Regions from separate parts of the Homo sapiens genome. Here all the other regions are linked to region 1. Evidence: fine-mapped expression QTL. A gene starts in region 1. Each other region holds a variant in brackets. All regions are shown on one strand. Distances are from middle to middle. Region 1 holds the start of NIBAN1 (niban apoptosis regulator 1). Region 2 overlaps NIBAN1 (niban apoptosis regulator 1). Region 3 overlaps NIBAN1 (niban apoptosis regulator 1). Region 4 overlaps NIBAN1 (niban apoptosis regulator 1). Region 5 has its middle 19 kb from the start of LINC01633.

Evidence for each region. PIP is the estimated chance that this variant, and not a neighbour inherited with it, causes the effect.
Region 2: its variant is the best candidate, but not a certain one, in a credible set for the expression of NIBAN1 in whole blood (TOPMed, PIP 0.83).
Region 3: its variant is the best candidate, but not a certain one, in a credible set for the expression of NIBAN1 in whole blood (INTERVAL, PIP 0.54).
Region 4: its variant is the best candidate, but not a certain one, in a credible set for the expression of NIBAN1 in whole blood (TOPMed, PIP 0.51).
Region 5: its variant is the best candidate, but not a certain one, in a credible set for the expression of NIBAN1 in monocytes after R848 (Quach 2016, PIP 0.80).

Annotation. Positions count from the first base shown.
Region 1 is chr1:184,971,857-184,976,960 of GRCh38, forward strand. NIBAN1 (niban apoptosis regulator 1) reads right to left here and starts at 2,652. Exons shown (of 14, transcript NM_052966.4): 1 at 2,446-2,652. The coding sequence starts at 2,500. RefSeq lists an enhancer at 1,837-2,006 and a silencer at 2,117-2,436.
Region 2 is chr1:184,791,791-184,796,890 of GRCh38, forward strand. It overlaps NIBAN1 (niban apoptosis regulator 1), which reads right to left. Exons shown (of 14, transcript NM_052966.4): 14 at 1-4,307. The coding sequence ends at 3,187. Among named protein-coding and RNA genes, the nearest start is that of EDEM3, 39 kb to the left of the region's middle. The variant C/T (reference allele first, on the strand shown) is at 2,672.
Region 3 is chr1:184,932,274-184,937,377 of GRCh38, forward strand. All of the region lies in intron 1 of NIBAN1 (niban apoptosis regulator 1), which reads right to left. It overlaps LOC124904469 (a long non-coding RNA gene), which reads right to left. Exons shown (of 2, transcript XR_007066770.1): 2 at 1-5,104. Among named protein-coding and RNA genes, the nearest start is that of NIBAN1, 40 kb to the right of the region's middle. The variant C/T (reference allele first, on the strand shown) is at 2,098.
Region 4 is chr1:184,865,054-184,870,157 of GRCh38, forward strand. All of the region lies in intron 5 of NIBAN1 (niban apoptosis regulator 1), which reads right to left. Among named protein-coding and RNA genes, the nearest start is that of NIBAN1, 110 kb to the right of the region's middle. The variant T/C (reference allele first, on the strand shown) is at 2,259.
Region 5 is chr1:185,018,140-185,023,243 of GRCh38, forward strand. No RefSeq gene overlaps it. Among named protein-coding and RNA genes, the nearest start is that of LINC01633, 19 kb to the left of the region's middle. The variant C/T (reference allele first, on the strand shown) is at 2,059.

The sequences.
Region 1 (5,104 bases):
CCGTAATTTCCCAAACTAACATCTTTAGAAATGAAGTAACTCCTTAACGTAGATGATATATCTTTACCTGAAGATTAACTAAATCCTAAGAAACAATGTATTTTCAAAACATCCATATGACACAGATGTTTTGAGGCACACAAGGAATGGCAGCTGTTAAATGATTTGTCTTAAAGTAAAGGCTGATTCAGCGTCAGTAGCATACAGCGGTTTATGATGCATACAAAATAAAGTTAACAAAAGTCACTCAAAATATATTGACTAGCTACTCTCCTTGTTAGCAAAGTTTATCAAGCTTAAAAGAAAGTTATTGTCTCAGCTTCAGGAGCTTTCAAATCTATATTTCACTGATGGCTACTTTATGAGAAACAGGTCATAAAAGTATATTTAAACTTTACTGTCATACTTCCAATCGTTTTGCTTACAATTGAATCAAAGCTTGAGAATATTTATAGGCTAAAAAATGGGCAAAGAGGTAAAGATAGGGCTATGATTTTACTCAGGAACCTGGGCTTCAAAACCATCAGGAAATCACAGCCCTGTGACCCTCATTTGCTCATGCACTAACAATGTACAACACCATGCATTTTTCCAAGGTTCTTTTCTCTTTTGGCAAGACTAGCATTCTCACATGAAGTGATGAGTCTTTTTCCCTGGAGGTATTCTAACTTTAACTCTTCTCTTCCCTCTCCCACTACACATACCTTGCAAGTGCCCTCCTGAATATAGAATGAAGAGAGAAAGCTGAACAAGACTGGGAAATGTAATGACTGTCACACCATATGCTATAGGTTTACTCATTCAAACACTTGCATTACAAGTTCTTCATCTGCCCTAACTCCCTCGTACTTTTGTATATGTAATAATTTAATAGCTTTCAGAATAAAGAAATTAATAGCATTTTCTTATTATCTGAGTACAATGTTTGCATCAATAGCAACAAATGGCACGGCCAGGAAGTCTTCTTTAAGCATGTTAATCCTTCACATTGCTTAACTTCAAATGATTAGTGTACTTGGCCATGCGTCCACATTAGGTGCTCCTAAGCTTTCCAGTGAAATAAAGTCTTATATAAATGCCTTAAACACAACTTTGCTAACATTCAAATGCAAGCCCTTTCTCACTACGTTCTGTTGATTGCCCTTTCAGTCCCTATACACTGGTAACACAAGCATGTAGCCACATTTTTAAGACTAAGGCAGGCTTCATTTATTTCTTTTAAGCTTAGTTCAGCTCTTTTACTAATATAAATAAATCATCCGTCTTTTCCCCTTTAACAAACAAAAGCAAAGAGATACTTGACCAAGTGTTATCCCCTGACAGTACAGGTTGTTGAGGATCTTTTACCTCCAAAAGCACCAGAGCAGGAATCTGTAAAATCAGCTCCGTTGCTCTTCACGTACCCTGATTTGATATCTTTTTAAAACGGTCTTAAATGTTGTGGTGACTGAAAACAAATGTGGAATAAGAACACCAAATAAATGATTTCCTCTTAGGAAAGGATTCAAGGGCCAAATAAACCTAGAGTTTAATACATAGTCTGGAAGATATTTCTGAAGCCGAGGGTGGGGGATCTGGCGGCGGGGCGGGGGAAAGACAGTAAATTGGTAAGATAACCAAATGTTAGGTAGCGGTTGAAGGCAAGTTTGGGGTGGGGGGTGAGAAGAGGGGAGGCCAAATACGCCCAGGAAATAAAGGAGATAACGAGTCAGGACTTCCTGCAGTTTCAGTTCGGTTTGGGTTTTGTTTTGTTTGTTTTGCAGCCTCACGCTCTCTACTGAGTCCCCACATCTCTGAGGGTCTCCCTAAATGAGTTTCTCCCCATCTGTAACTTTCGGGCAGTTACAAAGCACGCCAGTGTTCCTCTTTTGCTTCGCCCCTCTCCGGGGCGGGAAGGGAACGGCATGACATTGTCCTTTTTGCCGCTGATGAAATCATCCTGCAAGTGCTAGGATGAAGTGCGAGCGAAGCTGCGGCCAACGCCGCGCTTTCCAAAGCCAGGCCAACATTACTAAGAGGGAAATTCTGCTTTAGCTGCCGGGAATCCCCAGGGGTATCTCTAGAAACGCGGGATATCCCCGCTGCTCTCTTGGCGGCCAGTTCAGAAACCGCTCAGAACTCAGTCCAGGGCAGGTACTGGAGGGCGAAGTGCGCCGGGCGGGGGCGGCACTGACCCCGAGGCGGCGGGAGCGGCGAAGGCGCCGGCGTCCCCACCCGCATCCTGCACCTGCCTCGCTCCCAAGCCCTCCCGGTCCCCGGTCCACACCCGCGCCGGAGCGCGCCGGCTGGGGCAGGAAACCCGACTCGCGCGGGCGGGCTGCGGTCGGGGATCCCCGCGCGCTACAGGGAGAGGGCCCGGGGCGCGCCCCTTGGGGCCCCGACCGCGGCAGCCAGCCTGGTGCACGGGTCAGGGTGCTCCCCAGGCCCCCGGGCGGGCGGGCGTACCTCGGATGTAAGCGCACTTGCCCTCGTCCAGCTGGCTGGAGGCTGAGCCGCCCATGACCGCGAGCTGCCTGTGCTGAGCGCGGAAACTGCCCGGTCCGCGCCCGCTGCTAGCTCCTGGAGGTTGATCCGACGGCGAACCCGGCTCTGAAATTAAGAGCAAACTTCCTTCGAGAGGCGAGAGACAGGAGGCAAGAGGCGTCGCCTTCTGGGGCGCCTCCTCCAGGTCCGCGCCTTCTGATGATCCGTGGGCCGGCCCGGGGGCTGTCTTCCCGCCCTCGCCTAGCTGGTGAGCTCCGACGGGCTGGCAACCGAGGAGGTCGGCCAGCTCCTCCTCCTCGCCCACGGTCACTTCTTGTTTTCATCCCTTTGGGGCATCCAAGAAACACCTTGGAGGAAGTGGACCATTTCTCAAGTGACTAAATCTCTGTGAGCTGGAACTTTCCCAGCTCACATCCTTCGAGGTGGAGCTCAAGATCACGTTGCCTTGTAAGTGTTGCTGTCCAAGAAGCAACAGTTCTTCCCAAGCATTACCTGGGAGCCTGTTAGAAATACAAAATCTCAGCGCTTTCGTCCACCACCCCTCTACACACACACAGACACACACACACTTAGAATCTGTGGGAGTGGAGCCCAGCAATCTGTGTTTGCACAAACCCTCCAGGGAATTCTGATGCCCGCTGAAGTTTGAGAACTAGAGGTAAACTATACCTTTCTGCAGGCGAGAACCTGGACCAAGGAGGGAGTGGGGAAATGAGGAAAAAAGGAAAGAGAAAAAAAAATGGAAAGACAGGGAAAAACTAAGGCTTGGTCCTGCAATATACTCCCAGCCCTGAAACTTCCTAAGACTTGATGAACGTCTGTCCTTACCCCTTTACTTTCCATTCCTCTCCTTAACTGGAAATCAATCATTAGAAAAGATATTTGTTCTTTTCCCACAACCACTATTTAGCTTGGCAGCCTCTCGGAACAAGACCCACTTGGGCAGAGGGGTCACCGCTGATTTCATCCTATTCTTAGTAGTCAGTTATTTTGCGACTCCTATTGACTTAACCTCAAGGTCAAATGGTCTGTATACACTAGAACCAGGCCTGAGGAGGACTTTGAAGGCTTTCCCACACACCCCCGCCTTCCCTATTAGCTAACTTGCACTTTAACACAATTATTTCATCACACTCACACCCAATCTCTCACACTCTACATTCCAATCTGTCAGTAAATCCTGTCAATTCAGCTTTTAAATATGTCCAATAGCCAACCAATTCTCATCCCCTCTACTGACATCCCATATCATTCCTCACCTTATTCATTACACTAGCTGCCTAACTGATCTACCTTCTTCAGAGAAAAGCCACGACGTCTATCAGGGCCTAGGTGGAGTTTCCTCTGTGATCTTCTCTACCACCACTCCTTGTTCTCTCTGTTCCAGCCCTACTAGCCTTTTTTTTTACTCTTTCTGAGACACATCAAGCTCAGGGCCTTTGCACTTGTTTTTCATTTCTGTAGGATGCTCTTCCTTCAGATATTCACATAGGTTACTCTCTCAGTCATTTCATTCAAGCCTCCACTTTAATGCTAGTAATTCAGAGAGGTTCTCCTTGACCCAGGAACACCAGCCATCACCTCTCTCTGCCACTTGCTCTTCATTATTTCTGTTTCATATCACTTAGTATCATCTAACACATATTTCTTTGTCTATCTTCCCCCACTGCGATGTAAACTCTATAAGATCAGGGATTTTCTTTGTTGTTATTGTTGTTTCTTGGGGCTTTTTCCCTCAAAATTTCTGTTTCCTTTTTTATTATTATTTTTCCTCTTATGGCAGGGATTTTTTTGTCTATTCTGTCCTCTGCTGTATTTCAAATGCCTAGAAGAGCACCTAGCATGTAGTAGGTGTCCAGTAGATAACCACTGAATAAGTGAATGAATGAAAAATAAAATGTAAAAATCTGTACTCAACAAAAACTGTGATCTCAAGCATTTCCAGATAACAACTCAATGATTTAAAATATTTAGTGTTGAACTCTTCTCTCAATACTCTAGTTGGCTCCTAGAATTAAGTGTATCTTCTTGGAGAAGTAATTTCTTTGACTATATAAATTGCTATAACTGTGCCTCAGAATACTGTTATTGTTATTGAAGAAAACTAGCTTGGATCTCCTGCCAGAAGTGTAGTTTTAGCTTGTCACCTCTACTTCAGGAATACTCTGAGAAAGGACTGATTATCCTCATCTACCCTTATCCACTCATTTGTAAATATTCACGGATGAAACAGAGTACAAAGATGGATTCACACAAACAAATGGAAAAACATTCAATGCTCATAGATAAGAAGAATCAATATTGTTAAAATGGTCATACTGCCCAGAGCAATGTACAGATTCAAAGCTCTTCCTATCAAACTACCAAAGACATGCCTCACAGAATTAGAAAAAAACTATTCTAAAATTCAGATGAAACTAAAAAAGAGCCTGAATAGCTAGTGCAATCCTAAGCAAAAAGAACAAAGCTGTTGGCATGGCATGATCTGACTTCAAACTATACTAGAAGGGTACAGTCACCAAAACAGCATAATGCTGGTACAAAAACAGTATACCAAAAATATTGGACAAAAACAGATACATAGACCAATGGAACAGAATAGAGAAATAAACCAGAAATA
Region 2 (5,100 bases), 180 kb before region 1:
GAAACCACTCAAATGACACATACAAGTCTGTATGAAAAGCAAAACAAACTCATGGTGATATGCAGTTATTCCATTCAACATGTTAAAATGAAGACAGAGTATTTTAAATGCACTCTAGTTTCCTGTTCCATCTTCAAATTAAACAATCATCCTGCTTATTCTAGAAAACTTTTTTTTTTTTTTTGAGACAGGGTCTCATTTTGTTGCCCAAGCTGGAGTGCAGTGGTAAAATCATAGTTCACTGCAGCCTCAACTTCCCTCGCTCAAACAATCCTCCTGCCTCAACCACCCAAGTAGCTAGGACTGCAGGCACACACCATTATTATTTTTTGTAAGGATGAGATCTTGCTATGTTTCCCAGGCTTGTCTAGAACTCCTGGGCTCAAGTGACCCTCTCACCTCAGCCTCCCAAAGTGCTGGGATTATAGGTGTAAGCTACCACATCCAGCCCAAAAACTTGTCTTTAGTGAAATATGTACAGAAAATTCTTTGATTATATTCTGGAGTACATCCTGCCAAATAGTGCCCAGTCCTCCCTGACCTACATGATGGATAAAGTTAGGGCACTGATGTTCATCCATCCAATGCAGTGAAAGGTACTCTCTTTTAGGGTTGAAAAAAATCTCTTAGCTTTCCAGGGGGTGCAAGAAGCCCTGCATTGAGCAAAGAAAGGAAGCTAGGAAGCTCCGGTGTGAGGTCAGCCTGGGCTGGGACTCCACACTACTGTCCCAGGGAGTCGGGCAGCCTTTGTGGGGCTGGGCACTGCCTCTTTGGCTTCCTGCCTTACTGGGCAGTGCATCTGGCCATCTGCCCCTTGGACTTTGGACTTTACTTAAGAGAAAACTCAACAAGGGCAGAAAGCCCAATTCAAAACGTCTTTCTGCCTGACAGCAGGCCCCAAATAGCCCCAGCACAGCAGTGTTCTGGGTGTCCAGTTCCCACATTTCCCGAGCAGCCTGACGCATGCCAGGTCCTATGCACCAGGGATATTAAAGTGACTCAAGGAGGCAGGAAGCCATTATTCAAGGCTGTGGGTTTCTAGCAGGAAGCACAAATGATGACTAAACCCTAGTTTCTGTCTTTTAAGAGAGGAGCCACTTGGAGAGACAAGAAGTAAACCTAATTTCAACACACCATGCTAAATGCCAGGATATGAGTGAGCACTGCAGAAAGCAGAGACTGGGGGAGAAGTGGTCTTTACTTCCTTCACCTGTGGTGGGATCCCTCAAAGACATGAGGATTTAAACACGCCAAGAAAAGTTGCAACAATTAAATATGATATTATACATATACTGAGTATTATTCATGTTTATGACCTAGAAATTCTTCATGGGAGGGCTGAAAAGGGTGATATTTTAATTTCTGGTTAAATGGTTGAACTGTGTGTGAAGCAAATGCTCTAAAGAACTGACATAAATTTACTCGATAGTGATGATCTAAACAAGTTCTCAACAAATATGTTGAGATCTGATGTTAAAATTTGGGGAGGGGCCAGGTAGCTCACGCTGTAATCCCAGCACTTTGGGAAGTCGAGGTGGGTGGATCGCTTGAAATCAGGAGTTTGAGACCAGCCTGGCCAACATGGTGAAAACCCATCTCTACCAAAAATACAAAAATTAGCCGGGAATGGTGCCGCATGGCTGTAATTCCAGCTACTTGGGACGCTGACAGAGGAGAATCTCCTGAACCCAGGAGGCGGAGGTTGCAGTGAGCCGAGATCACACCACTGCACTCCAGCCTTGGCGACAGAGTGAGACTCCATCTCAAAAAAATAGAATAAAATAAAATAAAAAGTCGGGGAGGGAAACCACGATGTAATACTTGGGACTGGAGATTTTAGGAAATGATCTGGTATTTTTCTGAAGGAGAAAAGAACAACTCCTTTTAATCTTTTGGAAGCAAGTCTCTTCCATTTTCAACATTAATGGTTATAGGTCACCATCCGTTAAGAAGATGTGTTTTGTCTATTTCCATTAAAATGTAAGTTCTAGGAGGAAGGAACAAAGTTGTTTTTCGCCATGGTATCCCCAGTGCTTGGTATATAACAGAGACTCAATTAGCTTGCTGAATGACCAAACAAATGATTTCAGCTTTTGATAACATCTTTGGAACTTGAGAGCATACACCTTGGCTTTTGTCTTTATTCATTTATTTATTTATTCATTCATTTTGTGCCCTTCTGGGAATGAACCAGGACTATTTGAATGGAAAGAGAAAAAAAAAAGCTGTCATAGTTTAAAAATTGGCATATGTTCTCTTCCAGATTAAATTCCCTTGGACCTTTTAATTTATGCTAGAACAAGCACTTATCTTTTCTTTTTTTTATTACTAAGCCCAACACAGTGCGTGGCATGCAGTAACTGTTCAAATAATGTTTGTTTAATTGACGGGTTTTAAGCTCGATAACTTAGCTAAGCCCTTTGCACAGTCTAAGCCTAATTTGGAATGCTTTCAGTCTTACCCAGGCCAATAAAATTTTCTTGCCTCATCTGAATTTCCTGCAAATGTGATTAATTAATAAGAATCATCAAGATTAATTAATAAGAAATTGATAGCAGGATGAGTAACAGGCCCAGACAGTCCCACAGATCACACCTTCCACCCTCCATTTCCGCTTAGCTTCTCTTGAATCTATTGGGCATGATTGCCTCTGTGGGGGCTACAGCCAGCA[C/T]GGGTGACTGTTCATGACCTACCCTCTCTTGCAGTCTGACTGTGGACAAATGCCGAGTCCTTAAGAGATGGTGAAGTAGGCATAGTAGATAGTAAAGGTAGACTTACAGTATACATTTGCATTCTCAAACAAAATTAAAAAGCCTTAAAGTGCACAAGAAGATTGCACAATTGAAAAGTGCAGAGTATACTCAAAACTGTCATCCTACTGTTTTCTCAGTCTTCCCTGCAATACTATTCCCTCCTCAGACATCCTCAGCTCCCTCTCACCCCAAGTATGCCATTGTCTTTGTAATTCTTATTAAAATACTAAAGCAAAAATTCATCGTAGAACAATTCATGTCCACAAAGGTTTGCCTCAGTTGCTCATGCCCTGTATGCATTTCCTCTGGTTTTATTATTCAAATTAAGAAAATACTTAAAAATTTTTTGGTAACAGCTTGCATGCAACCCCTAAGTGTACCCCTATAACCCTTTGGCTTTTTTCAGAGAAAGACTTCAGCCAAATTGTCCCTTTCACTCCTCTGAGGGCAGCTCTGGGAAACTCTCCTGACCACCTTCTCCCTCCTTCACGTCATCTTTGTGTGACAGCAGGACATCCGGGTTTGGAGCATCCTCCACCACCCACTGACACTCATGAATACGGGCTACCTTGATCTCCTCTGCATTCACACTGGCCGTGGCCTGGGCCGCGCTGCTTTGCCCTCCCATCTCTTCTTGTTCCTCAGAAACCTGGCTCTCACTGAGGCAGATGGGGTCAGAACCTAAGGTGCAGCCCTCTTGCTGTGAGGCATCCCCTTCCTCGGTACACTTGCCCCCTCTTCCTTCATGGGCAGTGAGTGTGCAGGCCTCTCCTGGGAGCTCCCCCTCCATGGGCCCCAGGGGCTCCTCGGTGAGCCCTCCACTGGCTGGCGGAGAGGCTGGGCTGCCTACCTCTGGAAATCCCCCCAACTCCTCCCCATGGGCCTCGGGACAGGGAGGTTGGGCCTCCCTCTCGCTGACTTCACTTTCTTCACAGTTGTCGGGGTGGATGGCAGCTGCCTGACTGGGCTCTTTTTCCTCTTCTTCTTCATTTTCTTGGGGAACGTGGCTCTCCCCATTCGTATCTTCTTCCATCACTGGAGCAGAGTCCACTGGTACTTCCACGGACGCTGTCAGCAACTTTCTGAGCGCCTTCAAAGAACCCGAGGCAGTGATGGGTTCTGGCTCTTCCTGGGCGGGTTCTTCATCCTCAAGGGTCCCTCCAAACTCCAGCTCTGATGAGCATGTGCCCGGGAGTCCTGCTGTGTCCTCTGTTGCCACAGGATTCACCACGGGGTCATCCACTCTTGAAATAATCACCTGCTCAGTCCCATCTGGGGGTGGGCTTGGCCCAGGGAGAGAAAGGCTTTCTCCTTTGGCCAACGAGCTAGGGACCTCAGGCTGCTTCTCTTCCTCTGACTCCTGGAATACTTCGTTACTGAGGGTCTCACTACCCAGAACTCCTGGCAGAATGGCAGAAGCTCTCCTGGCAGGGCTGGCCTGGTTTGACCCTGTGGGGGGCTTTAGATCTGTTAAGCTGGACACACTTTCACTGGGCAAGGCCATGTTATCTTCAAATAAGTTGTGTTTCTTCAAGATAGCAGCTTCCTTTATCACTGAGAGATATCAGAAAACAAAACATGATTTTCTGATTTTATTGAGAAGCCAAAGTCCCCTTTCAGCCTCTCTGGCTATCCAAATTTCTCCATTTCAAGACCCAGCTTACATCCAGGGAGCCTTCCCTGATGACCAAAGTCTATAAACTCTTTCCAAACTCTGAGCCTCTGTAGCATTCATTCATTCATTTATTCAAACAGCAAACATTTGCAGGACATTTAACATGGGACAGGCCCTGGGAATCCAGAGATGAATAAACTATAGCCTTTGTTTTCAAGACACTCAGGGTCTGCAGTAGTGTCACCTGTATCCCTCAGGGAGGCCCCAGCACATTTTATTAGCTGCTAAGATGGGTGGCTCCAGTTTGTCCACCTGGACTGAAATCCTCTAGGGCAGGGCCAGGCCTTACACTTATCTGCTTTACCTTGCAGTACAGTCCTGAATGTGTAATAGGTACTCGGTACTGCACATGCAGAGGAGAGGGCCAAAATGAAGATCCATGTGCATCTAGCTCAGTTTCAAAGGCCTCCAGAGGGGCAAATCCAATAACAACAACAACAACAGCAGGTGACATTTTTGACCACAGGCCTCCTACTTATGGCTGTGCAGGGGCTGTAGTGCCCAAAAATATCACATCTCAGGGGTGCCATTCATATCAAAGACAGAACAGATTTGTGTATTCGGCATAACTTTTCAGCATCTAGCTGCAGAGTTTCCTTCTCTAACAAAATCAATATATTGTGACAATTTTCTAACAGACAGCAATAAAGTGTCTGGAGGAAAGGAGTCTTT
Region 3 (5,104 bases), 40 kb before region 1:
AGTAATTTTGCAACTCACCATAATGTACAATTAGTGGAAGCCCTGAGCTTGTTTTCCTGCAACTAGACGGTCCCATCTGGGGGTGATGGGAGACAATGATAGATTGTCAGACATTAGTTAGATTCTCATAAGGATCATGAACTTAGATCCCCTGCATGCACAGTTCACAGTAGAGTTCGTGCTCCTATAAGAATCTAATGCTGCCGCTGACCTGACAGGAGGTGGAGCTCAGGTGGTAATGCAAGTAATGGGGAGCGGCTGTAAATACAGATGAAGCTTCGCTTGCTCATCTGCTGCTCACCTCCTGCTATGAGGCCTGGTTCCTAACTGGCCACAGACGGTACTGGTCCATGGCCTGGCGGTTGGGAACTCCTGGTCTAGAACACATGGAAAGTCATAGGCTCACATATTCTTTTCTTTTGTATATTTGACTTATTTGACTTAAATTTTGATTTTTTAAAAGCTTAAAAGTTATGAATAATGTATAACATAATATTTAACAAAGACAAGATTTAGGCATAAGCAAAGAAAAAACTATCTCCTTCTCTATTCCTTGTTAGTGCCAGTCTCTCTGCATCTATTTTCTTTAGTGAGTAGAAAAACTATCTGTTTATCCCAGCCAAAGATTGCCTACAACCCTTCTGACAAAAAAGAGAAACACGACAGATGGCAATTATAATGGTAAACTCTCAATAATGCAGAAAGCATAACAAAAATCTCCTCCTCCTAAATTTGACTAGAGACACAAAAATTAAAGAGTAATTAGATAAAGTGCAAGCTCTCAGTCTAACAATGAAAGCACTTTCAATACTCACAGAATATTCCCAACTTACATTTCACTCTTACTTCTACTACTTCCCTACACTCCCACCAAAGTAGACTGCCATTCTGACAGCATGACCTACACCTTACCATCCCTGCTATGCCCCTGCTGCAGTGCCCTTTCTCAAAGTCCAGTTCAACCTTTCAGAATCCTGTCCATCCTTTAAGGTCCATTCACTCAACATATATCCACTACAGTCTATTTATAAAATACTAAGGACAGGAAAAGTAATTCAGAAGGTCCCTGCCCTGAGGAGCCACCAGTCTGACCTATCTTAATTGCTACATTTTCCGCAAAGCCCTTTTGGATCTGCCAAACCACCTGTGATCTCTTCTTCCTTTTAAACCCCTTCTCTGGTATTTAAGAATCTCTGACCAATCCCCTACTATGAATCAGGGATAGTGCTGGGCACTTTCACATGCATTTATATCATTTACTCCACACCACATCTTCATACACAAATAAGGCCTCCATAGACCCCTGGGCATGTAAGAAAACTGATGTTCATAAGTTCACATCCATGGCAAATGCCTTGTTAGGAAATGAAATGTAGTTTTATCAACTTTTGTATCTGCGGCTATTTCCATCAATATTACAGCAGCACCCACTTCATCTTATTATTATTTGTGTGGTTATCTTACTTTCTCTATTACAATGACATTTTAAAACAAGAATTGAATCTTATACAGTCTAACATAAGTTTCAACACTCGCTATAGAAATGCCTGGTTTATAGCAGCTACTCAAAGAATGTTTCATAAGAAAGTTGTGTTCCAAGTATTCTGGTGAATGCCAATGCTGGTTCACAATGATGGGGGTCTGAGAACCAACTGACCTCCCTGACATTGTGTGAAGCAGGAACATACCGAACCTTTACTGGAAGTTGGAAGAGGAAGATGAGAGCTGTGAGGGATCTCAGAATGCATATGGGAAATCATGGGTTCAAGAAAGAGGCAATAAAAGAATGGAATCAACCTAGGTGCCCATCAACAGTGGATTGGATAAAATGTGGTACATATACACTATGGAATACTATGCAGCCATAAAAAGTAACAAAATTATGTCCTTTGCAGCAACATAATTGCAGCTAGAAGCCATTATCCTAAGCGAATTAATGCAGGAACAGAAAACCAAATACCACATATTCTTACTTATAAGTGGGAAGTAAACATTGAGTACTCATGGACATAAAGATGGCAACAATAGACATTGGAAACTACTAGAGGGAGAAGGAAGGGAGGAGGGCAAGTGTTAAAAAAACTATTGGATACTATG[C/T]TTACTCTCTGGGTGATGGGATCAATTGTACCCCAAATCTCAGTATTATGCAATATACCATGTAACAAACCTGCACATCTACCCCTTGAATCCAAAATAAGAGTTGAAATTGACCTGGCTCAGGGGCTCACACCTGTAATCGCAGCACTTTGGGAGGCCAAGGTAGGAGGATCACTTGAGGCCAGGAGTTCAAGACCAGCCTGGACAACACAGTAAGACTCCATCTCTACAAAAATAAATAAATGGCCACTAGCAGTGGCTCACGCCTGTAATCCCAGCACTTTGGGAGGCTGAGGCGGGTGGATCACGAGGTCAGGAGTTTGAGACCAGCCTGGCCAATATGGTAAAACCCTGTCTCTACTAAAAATACACAAGTTAGCCGGGCATGGTGGCGCATGACTGTAGTCCCAGATACTTAGGAGGCTGAGGCAGGAGAATCGCTTGAATCTGGGAGGCAGCGGTTGCAGTGAGCCAAGATCATGCCACTGCACTCCAGCATGGGAGACAGAGAGACTCCATCTCAAAAAATAAATAAATAAATAAATAAAAATTAGCCGGGCATGGTGGCATGCACCTGCAGTGCCAGCTACCCAGGAGGCTGAGACAGGAGGATCACTTAAGCCGGGGAGCTCAAGGCTGCAATGAGCCGTGGTCACACCACTGCACTCCGGCTTGGGTAACAGAGCAAGAATCTGTCTCAAAAAAAGGAAAATCAATTTGAAATTTATTTTTAGACCATCATTTAATAGCAGACATTTTTTTTTTAAGTTTTAGCAAATGTCACATACTACAGCTGTCATACAATCAAAGCTTCTGTCTGTGAGGTAGAGATTTTCAGAGGGAAATAAAAAATAAGATCCGAGGCTGGGAATCGTGGTTCACCCAGCACTTTGGGAGGCTGAGGTGGGAGAATCACTTGAGTCCCAGCAGTTCGAGACCAGCCTGGGCAATGCAGTGAGACCCTGTCTATACAAAAAATAAAAATAAAAAAGCTGGGCACAGTGGCAAGCACCTGTAGTCCCAGCTACTCAGAAGGCCAAGGTGCGAAGATCACTTGAGCCCAGGAGGTTGAGGCTGCAGTGGGCCATGATTGTGCCACTGCCCTCCAGCCAGGGTGATAGAGTGAGACCCTGTCTTAAAAATAATAAGATCCAGCAAATAAAAGAAAGGGGCAATAATCTAACGTTGATCTGATTGAGCTTGGAAGGTCTAAAGCAAGCAACATTTAATACATAGAAATATATATATTTTTTTAAATGTGAAAATAAAAGGGGGATGAAAATTTGCAAAAATTCAGACTGGCTTGATCAAGCTTTGTTCACAGTTCTGAGTACAACATAGGTACCTGGGAAAAAGAAAGCCTAGTTGGGTAAATTTCAAGGTCTGAATCTAGGGACACCAACTAAGTCAAGAGTTAGGGTTTTTTTTTTTTTAAGTTTTGACTTAAAATCCAGAATGAAAACCAATCCTTTTCCAGGAACCTACATAGCTGAGAGAGCTCAACTTGGATTTCATGTTAGAAGAGTTTCCCTGGGACAAACGGGAGACAGGCTCACAGGTGAAGGCAAATGCAGACTAGTGAGAGAGTTGCAGGATTTCAGAGCTGACGAACCACAGCTATATCTAACCCAACCTATTTTTGTGATAGATGAAAAAAAAAAAAAAACAGGGGAAACTAAGCGTCTATTGAAAGGTTTACACTTATGCTAAACTAATTAAGTAACATGAGCTTGCCACTCAGAACTGACCTCATCCAAACATAACTGTGTTCCCAGATTCCATCACCAGACCATGAAAGCCATATGTACTCCAAAAGAGTGCTTATGTGCTCTGCTTGGACTATGATAGATGCTGGAAATGGAGGATCCTGAGGGAAAAAGAACAACAGGAGAACTCACAGATTCCGGGAGTGTAGTTTCAGCAGCAGACAGTCTCCCAGGTTTTGATCCCCTGGAGAGTGAAGGAGCAAGCTTTCCAAGGGAAGTGGGGAGGAACAGCCATCCAAAGGAGCTCTCTGTCAGGCCTCATATTTCTCATGTTCCTGTATTGTTGCCTCCTGGTGAGTTTTCTGCCACTGCTATACGAAATTACCATAAACTTCATTGCTTAAAAAGAACAGAAACTTCCTCTGCAGTCCTGGAGGCTAGAAGTCTAAGTCAGTATCACTGGGATGAAATCAAGGAGTTAGCAGGCCCACCTGCCCTCTGGCAGGGCCATTCCCTTCAGAGGCTCCACTCCTTGCCTATTCCAGCTTTGGTAGCTACTGGGACTCCTGGGCTTGTGGCTGCATCACTCCATATTGCTTCAGTCTTCACACTGCGTGCGTGCGTGTGTGTGTGCGTGTGTGTGTGTAACCTCCCTCTGCTTTTCTCTTATAAAGATATATGTGATTGCATTTAATCCCCTAATCTCAAGTTCTTTAACTTAATCACATCCTCAAAGACACTTTTTTCCAAATAAGGTAACATTTACAAGTTCCAGGGATTAGGACCTGACATCTTTGGGGAGCATTCTTCAGCCCACTACCCCACATTAATAAAACTCATCCCCATGATTAATATAAAGATGTTTTCAAGTAAAGAAACTGAGGGACTTATATGAAGTCACACTACAAGACTCTTCTCCATCCTATCCCTTTCCTCCTATGCTCCTTTCTTCCTTATACGGGCGCATTTCTTTATAAGAAATTAATAAGTTCATCCAAGGAAGCAATAAATATTATGTAATACTGAGGACCTTGGTATTCATTGCTGACTTCTGTTAATAGCTGGATTCTTTTTTTTTTTTTTTTTTTTTTTGAGAGACAGGTTCTTGCTATGTTGCCCAGGTGGAGTGCAGTGGCTATTCATAGATGCAATCACAGTGTACTACAACCTTTAACTTCTGGGTTCAAGCAATGCTCCTGCCTCAGCCTCTAACTAGCTGGGACTATAGGTGTGTGCCATTGTGCCTGGCCCTTAGTAGCTAATCCTAAAATCACTCTTAAGATGGTTCTGGAGGTCATACA
Region 4 (5,104 bases), 110 kb before region 1:
ATGTGATACCATCTCACACCAGTCAGAATGGCTATTACTAAAAAGTCAAAAAATAACAGATGCTGGTGAGGTGCAGAGAAAAGGGAATGCTTATACATGGTAGATAGGAATGTAAGTTAGTTCAGCCACTGTGGAAAGCAGTCTGGAATCAGCCTTGGTGCCCATCAACAGTGGGCTGGGCAAAGAAAATGTGGTATATATACACAATGGGATACTACACAGCTATTAAAAAAAGAACAAAATCATGTCCTTTGTAGCAACATGGAGGAAGCTGAAGGCCATTATAAGCAAATTAACACAGGAGCAGAAAACCAAATACCTCATGTTCTCACTTATAAGTGGGAGCCACACATTGAGTACCAATGGACATATAGATGGCAACAATACACGGGACTATAGAGGTGGGGGAAGGGTACAGAGTTGAAAAACCTAACTATTGTATACTATGCTCAGTACTTGGGTAACGAGACCATTCATACCCCAAACCTCAGCATCACACAGTATACCAATGTAACAAATCTGCACACGTACCCCCAAATCTAAAACAAGCTGAAAAAAAATAATTTTTAAACAAAAAGAAAGGATGCTTAATGGGTCACAGCCAACAAAACAGTGACTTAAATAATGGCATCATGCAACACATTTCACTTTGTCTGGTCAGTCTCAGTCAGAAATCTAACTGCTAAGATTGATTTTCATTAATCATCCAAATAATAAGCCAAAAATACTGTTTTATGTAAAGGAAGGCTTAAACACAAATGATAGTAGGCGATGAGGAGCATGAGAAAAAAAGTTGTAAAGCTGATGGAAAATGAAAAATAAACAAGTAACTGCACAGATAGTCAAAAAAGAAAGCAAAATCTTCCAAAGAAATTGCCTTTGCTGTTAACAAGTAAAATAGACCTTTCTCCTAAACAATCCGGAATGCTTTATTAACTATTCTTATCATTTCCAGATGCTTTTTCAAATGATGACCTACTTCCCATGCTCCTTTATTCAGTTAAAAAAAAATGAGTATGTGCTTACTACACCCCTACACTCAGTACTAATGGCTGAGATGTAATAGTAGATGGGCATAGACTTGGCTTCTAGGAACTCCTAGTTTTAGGAGTCAGATAAATAAATAGTCAATGATGACATGATGTGATTAGAACTGTGATGGAAGTAAGGACAGGTACGAGAGAAGGAAGGACAGATGAATGGACAGATAGAAGAAAATTGTGGGGCTTTCACCTACCTGAAAGATTAAGAAAGGTGTTCTGGTGGAAATGACATTTAACCTAAGGCCTTCAGAAAATCAAATTTAGGAGTCCAAAAGTGAGCTATTGGCTTAGGATTTAGTTCTAAGGGCTGAAAGATGCAGAGGGAATTGAAAATAGTGTTATAATTCTAGGATGTGTTCTTTGGAGGAAAGTTAAGAAGACACGAAATGTAATTTTAAGATGATAATGTGTAACAATCCACTTAACCCAACTGTCAGCTCCCTATAATAATATTTCAATTTCAAATCTGTTCCCTTCTCTTAAGTTATGAAATTCACATTTCCAGAGACATCTAAATTAGATCATAAGTTTCTTAGATTCCTGACCTGGTAAAAAATATACATGGTATGAAGAGAACAGTACTGTGTTCATTTAAAGCCACCAAATATGGAACTAGAAATCAGAAGAAAACCAGAGATGGCAAAATTTAGACCAATGGCAACTCACTCATCTATGCTGGTAATTTCACTACCCTTCATCCTGACCAAACCCAATCATAAATGTCAATCAGCCTATCTCAAAATTAGTGATATTTAGAACTTCACCTAGCAATTCTAGAAAGCTTTTGGCTTGCAAGGTATCTATGAAAGAAAGAGTGGAAGTTTTGCACCCCTTTCATCTAATCAAAATTCAAAATTTCTTCCCCCTTCTATTGTTATTCATTTATGAGCACAGATGTGCAAAAACCAATTCATTTTAAAGTCAAATACTAAATATGATGACTTACATCTGTACAAAAATCTGAAGTGCAGTACCGATACTAATGCGGTGACATCAGCAAGGCCAAACAGGAAGCTGAGGTATAGCCCCCATCACACACAGACACTCTCTCTCGGTCTCTCTCTCTCTCTCTCTCACACACACACACCCCTACACACAAACACACACACACACACACCCCAAAAGTGTCTCAGCTATAATATTGCATTCACTTAACGAATAGCCTTATTGCAAAACTTTGTGGTTTGTGACTAGGGTCTATTGTGCCAGGAAAAA[T/C]ATCTCCCTCTGTGCATGTTAAGCTTCTTCTGACAAGAAGCACTAGAAAGATACAAACCACCTATGTTCTTAGCAAGAATGACTCATTATTATTGGCACAAGGAGAATACAACTTTGTGGTAAGGCTTTTTGTTCTCAACTTGAAAATACCTAATCTGATATCCTAAAGCCTGGAGAAGAAAAAAAGAAGGATATCTTCAACTATTATCCTCCTCACTAGGGATTTAAGAAGGAAAGGACAATGGCTAAGGTGTGTGATAAGGTTACATCCTGCTTGACCCACCGTGTTTCCTGGAACAGAACCACTTGGGCTTGGGCCCGAGTTCACTTAAAGTGAGATGGAATGAGGCAAAATGATGTTCCTGATCTATTTTCTATTTCTTTTATTCCACTTATCCTGGAAAGTCAGGAGGAAATCATCCTCAAACTCTCCTCTGTTAACTGAGTGGGATAGCCTTACAAATTGAGTTTGGTTTATAAGCAATGACTGTGTTTTCGGTTTGTTTTGCCCCCAGCATCTAAGACAATGTTCTGGACACAGTAGACCCTTACCTTAATAGAGGCTCTTTTGTTCCAGCTTTTGTCTACCCCGTCACTTAAAGTGTCCCGTGTCACACAACGGGACAGTGTGGCAGTCTAATAGTTTCTAGGGAAAGGTGGGGAAGGAAAAAACAACAAATGAAGAGAAGTCTCAGTTCCTTTCTTAGCTGGTGATTGCATGAGCCATGCCCTGATCTCCCACCAGAAAGGAACTTGGCAGGGAGGGGCTTTGTCTGGTAAGATGTGAAAATGGGTGCTTTGCTTTCATTGCTCCTTCCTAACTTCCAACTTCCTTCTTTTTTACCTCCTTTTCTAAGCCTCTTAAAATAGAAATGTCCCACTAACACCCAGACGTTGTTGACTTGCAATATGATTTGTGGTCTCCAAAAGAAAATGCTAAAAAATTGTTTTAAAAAATTCAGGTCAGATCAGGACTTCCCCAACCCCCTCAGCAACAGCCAGTATGGGAATCCAGTTAACAAAAGAAAATGCTGAAAGGAAAAAAAAATAAAGGCTAAGTACTTAAAACACAAAGAACTGGTAATAGATAAGTACCATGAATTTTTCAACCCCACCCCTGCAACATATCCCACAAAATTATTCTCAGCTGTACATTTGCATAAACCAAGAAAATTCTAGCTTTGGAGAACATTTATAGAGTACACAGTTTACCACAGGAACACCCTTTTGGGTTAAGGCACAACTTCATGTTTAAAAGCAGAGAAAAGACTTAACTTCTGCATCTCAATTGTCACCTGAGTTTCAATTGATGTAGCAGCTCATGTCCCTCTCAAGTAGATATCAAGAAATTATCCATGTCAAGTTCAGTAGGAAGTGAGTATCCTCAAATCATCTGTTCCTGAATAAGGAATGAGATTAGATTTTTTTTAAAAATATCAGCTAGTCAAACACAGGGCACACAGTATGCGTTTAATAAGTACCTGCTGACTGAGAAGACACATGGTACAGTAGTTTAGAACACGGGCTTGAAGTCGGCCTGCTTGGCTTTAAAATCTTGTCCTGATCACCAGCTGTCTTACCAGCTGCCCCAGAACCCTCGTCTATAAAATGGGCATGATGACAATAATAGTGCCTACCTCACAGGACTGCTGTGAGGATTAAATGAGTTAATACAGTGGCTTTCCAAGTAGGGTCCCCAGGCCAGTAGTATCAGCATCAGCATTACCTGAGAACATGTCAGAAATGCAAATTCTTAGGACCCACCCCAGGCCAGGGAATTCCAGTGCATATTCAAGCAAGGGAAACAGACTAAATAATTTTAGGCATATTGCTTTCCTCTGGGATTTTATGGTCATGTCTAAGGGAAAGGTGGTACATTGCCTCTCACTCGGACAGAAGAAGGGGATAAAAGTAGAAGAGAAGAGAGGTATTTTATCTTACTAGTGGAGATCATCCATGTACACCTACACACGGTACAGCTTACCAGAGTGAGCTCTTACGTAAAATTAGATCGTCCAGTATAAAAAGCGAAAGGGTCACACTGGAAATGCAAAACTCAGTAAAGAAAATGTATCTCAGTTGTGCTTGCTATTAGATTCAGGATTATTTTCAAAAAGGAAATCCCATGAAGAGTCTAGTTGTGGTCCTCTCACTAAAATATTATAAAGAGTTTAATTTTATCTTACAATTGCTAAGCACATTGTGACCATTCACTACTTTTATTTGCATTCACTACTTTTTTTTTTTTTGAGACAGAGTTTCACTCTGTTTCCCAAGCCGGAGTGCAGTGGCTCCATCTCGGCTCACTGCAACTCCACCTCCCATGTTCAAGCGATTCTCCTGCCTCAGCCTCCTGAGTAGCTGGGATTACAGTTGTGCGCCACCATGCCCGGCTAATTTTTGTATTTTTAGTAGAGATGGGTTTTCACCATGTTGGCCAGGCTAGTCTCAAACTCCTGACCTCAAATGACCCACCCACCTTGGCCTCCCAACGTGCTAGGATTACGGGCGTGAGCCACTGCGCTCGGCCCACCATTCACCACTTTTTTATTGTGCTGTTGAATATCACTTCAAACATTAAATTCATATTATAAAAATCATGAATCTTTACCAGTAATACAATTTGAGAAAAATAAAAATTAAGTTGCTGAAGCAAAATACCTTATGTTTAAAAGGAAGACCCTAGGCAACAACGATTCTCTAACTCTGAAGGGATGCTGTTTAAAATGTACGTTTCTGGGCTCCTTTCCTCAGAGATTCTAATTCGTAGGTCTGGAATAATGCCAGGGACTCTGAAATTTTAAAAGTCTCTTCCCCCCAACTCTGATTCCACACCAAGTCATTCA
Region 5 (5,104 bases), 46 kb after region 1:
TGTACACTGGAGCTCAACCCTTGTCACCTACTCAAGGGTATCATTCCAGTAATTCTCTCTTCTCTCTTTCAACACTCTCAGGTTTTTCCTCTATTAGACTTGTTCCCAGCAGCATACAAATTTGCTCATGGGTCTGCCTTCTTAAAAAACACCAACACCGGCCAGGCATGGTGGCTCACGCCTGTAACCCCAACACTTTGAGAGGCCAAGGCAGGTAGATCACTTGAGGTCAGGAGTTCAAGACCAGCCTGGCCAACATGGTAAATCCCCATCTCTACTTCAAATACAAAAATTAGCCAGGCGTGGTGGTGCATGCCTGTAATCCCAGCTATTCAGGAGGCTGAGGCACAAGAATTGCTTGAAACCAGGAGGTGGACGTTGCAGTGAGCCAAGATCGCGCCACTGCACTCCAGCCTGCGTGACAGAGCAAGGCTCTGTCTCAAAAAAAAAAAAAAAAAAAAAAAGGAAGGAAAAAGGATGTATCACCTTTGCTATTATGATCACCACGCCTGGGCAACAGAGCAAGGCACCATGTCAAGGAAAAAAAAAAAAAAAAAAACAGGCCAGGTGCAGTGGCTCATGCCTATAATCCCAGCACTTTGGGAGGCCAAGATGGGCAGATCACTTGAGGTCAGGAGTTCGAGACCAGCCTGGCCAACATGGTGAAACCCCATCTCCACTAAAAATACAAAAATTAGCTAGGCATGGTGGCACCCACCTTTAATCCCAGCTACTCGGGAGGCTGAGGCAGGAGAATTGCTTGAACCTAGGAGGCAGAGGTTGCAGTGAGCCGAGATTGTGCCATTGCACTCCAGCCTGTGTGACTGAGCGAGACTCCATCTTAAAAGAAGAAAAAAAAGAAAAAAAACCTAAACACCCACCAACACCAATGAAATGAAAAAACAATGTTTCCATCTCACGACTCCTTCCCTGGTAGGATTTACCTGCTTCCTTTTGCTAGTCTAGATTGTGGTTCGCTCCTATTTCTGTTCACCCATTCTCTCTTAAACCCATTCTAATCAGGCTTTTGTCCCAATCAAAACTGCTTTTGTCAAGGTCACCAATGACCTCCACGTGGTTAAATCTCATGGTCTAATCATCTTCTACCTGGCCTGTCAGCAACATCTGACAATAGATCATTCTGTCTTTCTAACAGCCTTTCTTCACTTGATTTCCAGGATGCCCCACTCTCCTCTTTTTCACTTTCCTTACTCCCTGTGCCTTCACAGGCTCCCTTGCTGATCTCTTTCCCAGCCTCCTAATGTTGGAATACTCCAGGGCTCAGTTTTTTCTGGCTAAGAAATATAAGAAAGTACATGGGTCATTTGGCAAGCATTCACTGTATACTCTGCCACACTTTGTAATATTTTATATAGCTAATACATTTACTATGACAGTTGTTTATTGTTTATCTTTCCAAAAGCACTACAAGTGTCACAAAGGCAGGCACTTTTGTTACTTTGTGCTCTGACGTATGTCAAGCGCCTAGAAAAAAGTGCCTGTCACAAAGTAGGTGCTAAATAAGTATTTGTTGGATGAATAAATGTAGCAGGGTGAAGTGGAAATCTAAACTTTTTGTTGTTAACAAAAACAGATATTATTAAAGCTGTCAGCTACTTCTAAGTCTAGTGGTAGCTATTTAGAAGCTACTGTGGTGGTGAGCTTTGTTCAGAGATCAATGATGTGACCTGTTCCTTTTAGTTATGTGGATGTGTGACAAGGAGTGAACACTTATTCTCAGGTTCGATAGAGAATTCACAAATGCAATGCTTTAGGAGCCAGGCTGATACTGAAGAAAGCTAGATATAAGTGACTAGGGCTCTAAGCGAGATCTAAAGTGAGTAAACCCAACTCAGTTCCAATTAACAGAGGCCATGCAGCATGCAGATCCAGTTTTCCCGGGTCGTGTGGAAGCTAGGTTATCTATATTGTTAACTAAAAATCTCTCCATTTTAGAATATTGGCTCGAATCCAGAAAACACTGACAGGAAAACAAATCACAGCTGCAGGCTAGATGTGGCCTGTGACCATCAGTTCACTACCTGTAGTATAATGATA[C/T]TTTGGGGAGCTTATTTTGTGTTCTGGGAAGGAGAGGAAATTTTTTCCAATATAGACCTTAGAAGAAATCTCCTGGGAGAAAAATGGATACAGATATCAACCTCTTCTCTTTTGAGACTCCAGGTTATTACAACATCTTAGAGAGATATAGATATATAGTCTCACTTGAATTCACCTGGAAGGAAAGGAGACCCAGCACCCCAAGAAGCTGGAGCACCTGGGCATATTATAAGGCTCCAGAGGAGTAACATGAGGCCAGAGACTCTCTTGATTCAATCACCATAGCACTGGGGGCATGCTTGGTCAAAATAGCTGTGGAGAAGAGTGTATATTAAAGAAGAGGACTCATCAGTGGCATGATGATCATAATAGTAAAGGCGATATCTCCTTTTTCCTCCTTATGCTCTAAAAAACTGCAGCTCCAACAAGCAGTGGTTAAGGACCGTGGTCATTCCAGCAGTGGACAGTGATGATCTCTGGCGGTGTGAGACTCTGTGTTTCCAGGAACAACAGACTACAGCCAGGGCAGCAACAAAAGACACTAGTTGGTGGGCTGATTACAGTCTCTGCTTCTCTCTGAACTAGTTACATGAAAACAAGACTGACCTCAATAATGAGTGTGTATCCTGAGTTTTAAGGCAGAGGGTAGGGTAGGGTAAACTCCAAAGGGTAATCTTTAAAAAGGTGAAACTGAAATCATAATGATTTAATTTGTATATTAAAGAGAAACATGATTATGGCATAAGAATAGGCAAATAGATTAATGGAACAGAATAGTAAGTCCAAAAATAGACCCAAAAATATACAGTCAATTGAATATTTACAAAGGCACCAAGTCAATTCAATGGGAAAGGGAACTCTTCTAAACAGTTGAGGTTGAAACAGCTATAAAAATGTATGGAAAAAAATAAAGCTTGACCCTACCTCACAGCATAGACAAACATTGGTTTGACATGAATCACAGATGAAATATAAAACATAAAACTACAAAGATCCTAGAAGAAAACATAGGAGAATATCTCTGCAACCTTGCGATAGGCAAAGACTTCTCAGAACACCAAAAGAACTAACCATAAAAGAAAAAAAAGGATAAATTGGGCTTTATCAAAATTTAAAACTTCTGATCATCAAAAGACACCATTAAGATAATTAAAAAGGCAAATTGGGTTTTCAGTCCTGTAGATAAGCACCTTTGAAGTCATTGCTCCATTCCAAAAAGTAAAAAGATGAACAAATTGAAAAATTAATAACTCTTCTTAAACCCATCAGAGAAGTGAGGTCACATGGCAAACTGCTCGCCCAAGCTTGGAGAAACGGACAGATGAATACAGGGAATTACAAGTTCCTGGGACAGAAACCTAGAAGCAGAAATTGCCACAGAAACCAGTCTGAGATAGGAAGACCTGAACTGTAATTGACAAATCAATGGAGGCCCAGTGTAGACAATCCTGAGAGTTAAAAATTCAAGGAGGACCCAGTCATGGAGGAATCCCCACACTTTTGTGAGTTTTACCTCCAAGAGCTCGACCAGATCTTCACAATGCATATTGGAGAAAAATCCCCACCTGCTTCTAGAAGGGGAATGAGGAAAGTATAATTTGAAATATACCAGAGCATTCTGTTTTAACAAGTCCTGACCTCAAGAGAAACTATTTTAAAGAGCCTAAACAATTAGGGCTTTTTTCAGAGGCTAGCCAACCTGGGAAAGGAAAATACTCAACTCCAGCCACTCTAACAATTCTGTCCCACTAAAGGGAGAGAAAAAATTATTATTGTGGAATTCACAGTCCAAAGCACAGACTCATTAAAAGATTGAGAGACCTAATCACAGGACTATTGGATGCTTCCCCTTCCCCCACAACTTACCACTACATTCCTAAAGGCCTATTTACCTCAGTTCCTTTTACCCAATACATCCAGTCCATCTGCCAAGAAAAAGGTAATAGCTGGGCCCAGTGGTGCATGCCTACAGTCCCAGCTACTTGGGAGGCTGAGGTGGGAGAATCATTTGAGCCCAGGAGTTTGAGTCCAGCCTAGGCAACATAACAACACCCCATCTCTAAAAAGAAACAAAGAAAGTAAAAAATTACAAGACACACCATCTTGGTCTGTTTTGTGCTGCTACAATAGAATACCTGAAAGTGATAATTTATAGTATACAAAAATGTACTGGTTTATGGTTCTGGAGGCTAGGAGGTCCAAAATTGAGGGGCTAGCATCTAGTTAGGGCCTACTTGCTGCATCACTCCCTGGCAGAAGGCAAGAGGGCAAGAGAGACAGAATGAAAAGGGGGACTGAACTCCCTTTATAAGGAACCCACTCCTGTGATAACAGCGTTAATCGATTCATGATGGCAGAGACTCATGGCATAATCACATCTCATTAGGCCCCACTTCCCAATACTGTTGCATCAGGGATCAAGTTTCCAACACATGCTTTTTCAGGAACATATTCAAACCATAGCACATTCTAAAAGTCAAGAAACACAGTTTGAAGAAACAGAACAAGCATCAGAACAGAACTCATATATGGAAGGATGTTGGAATTATCAGACCAGGAATTTAAAACAACTATGATTAATGTGCTCAGGGCTCTAATGAATAAAGTTGATAGCATGCAAGAACAGGTAGGTAATGTGAGCAGAGAGATGGAAATTCTCAGAGAGAATCAAAAAGAAATGTTAGAGATCAAAAACACTACCAGAGATGAAGAATGCCTTTGATGGGCTCATTAGCACACTGGACATGACTAAGGAAAGAATCTTTGAGCTTTGGGATATCGCAATAGAAACTTCCAAAACTGAAAACGAGAAAAAGTCTGAAAAAACTCCAGAATATCCAAGAACTGTGGGACAACTGTAAAAGGTATAACATATGTGTAATGGGAATACCAGAAGAAAAGAAAGAGAGAAAGGAACAGAAGCAATATTTGAACGAATGACTGACAGCTTTTCAAAATTAATGTCAGGCACCAAACCACAGATTTGGGAAGCTCAGAGAACACCAAAAAGCATAAATACTAAAAAAGCTATACCTAGGCATATCAT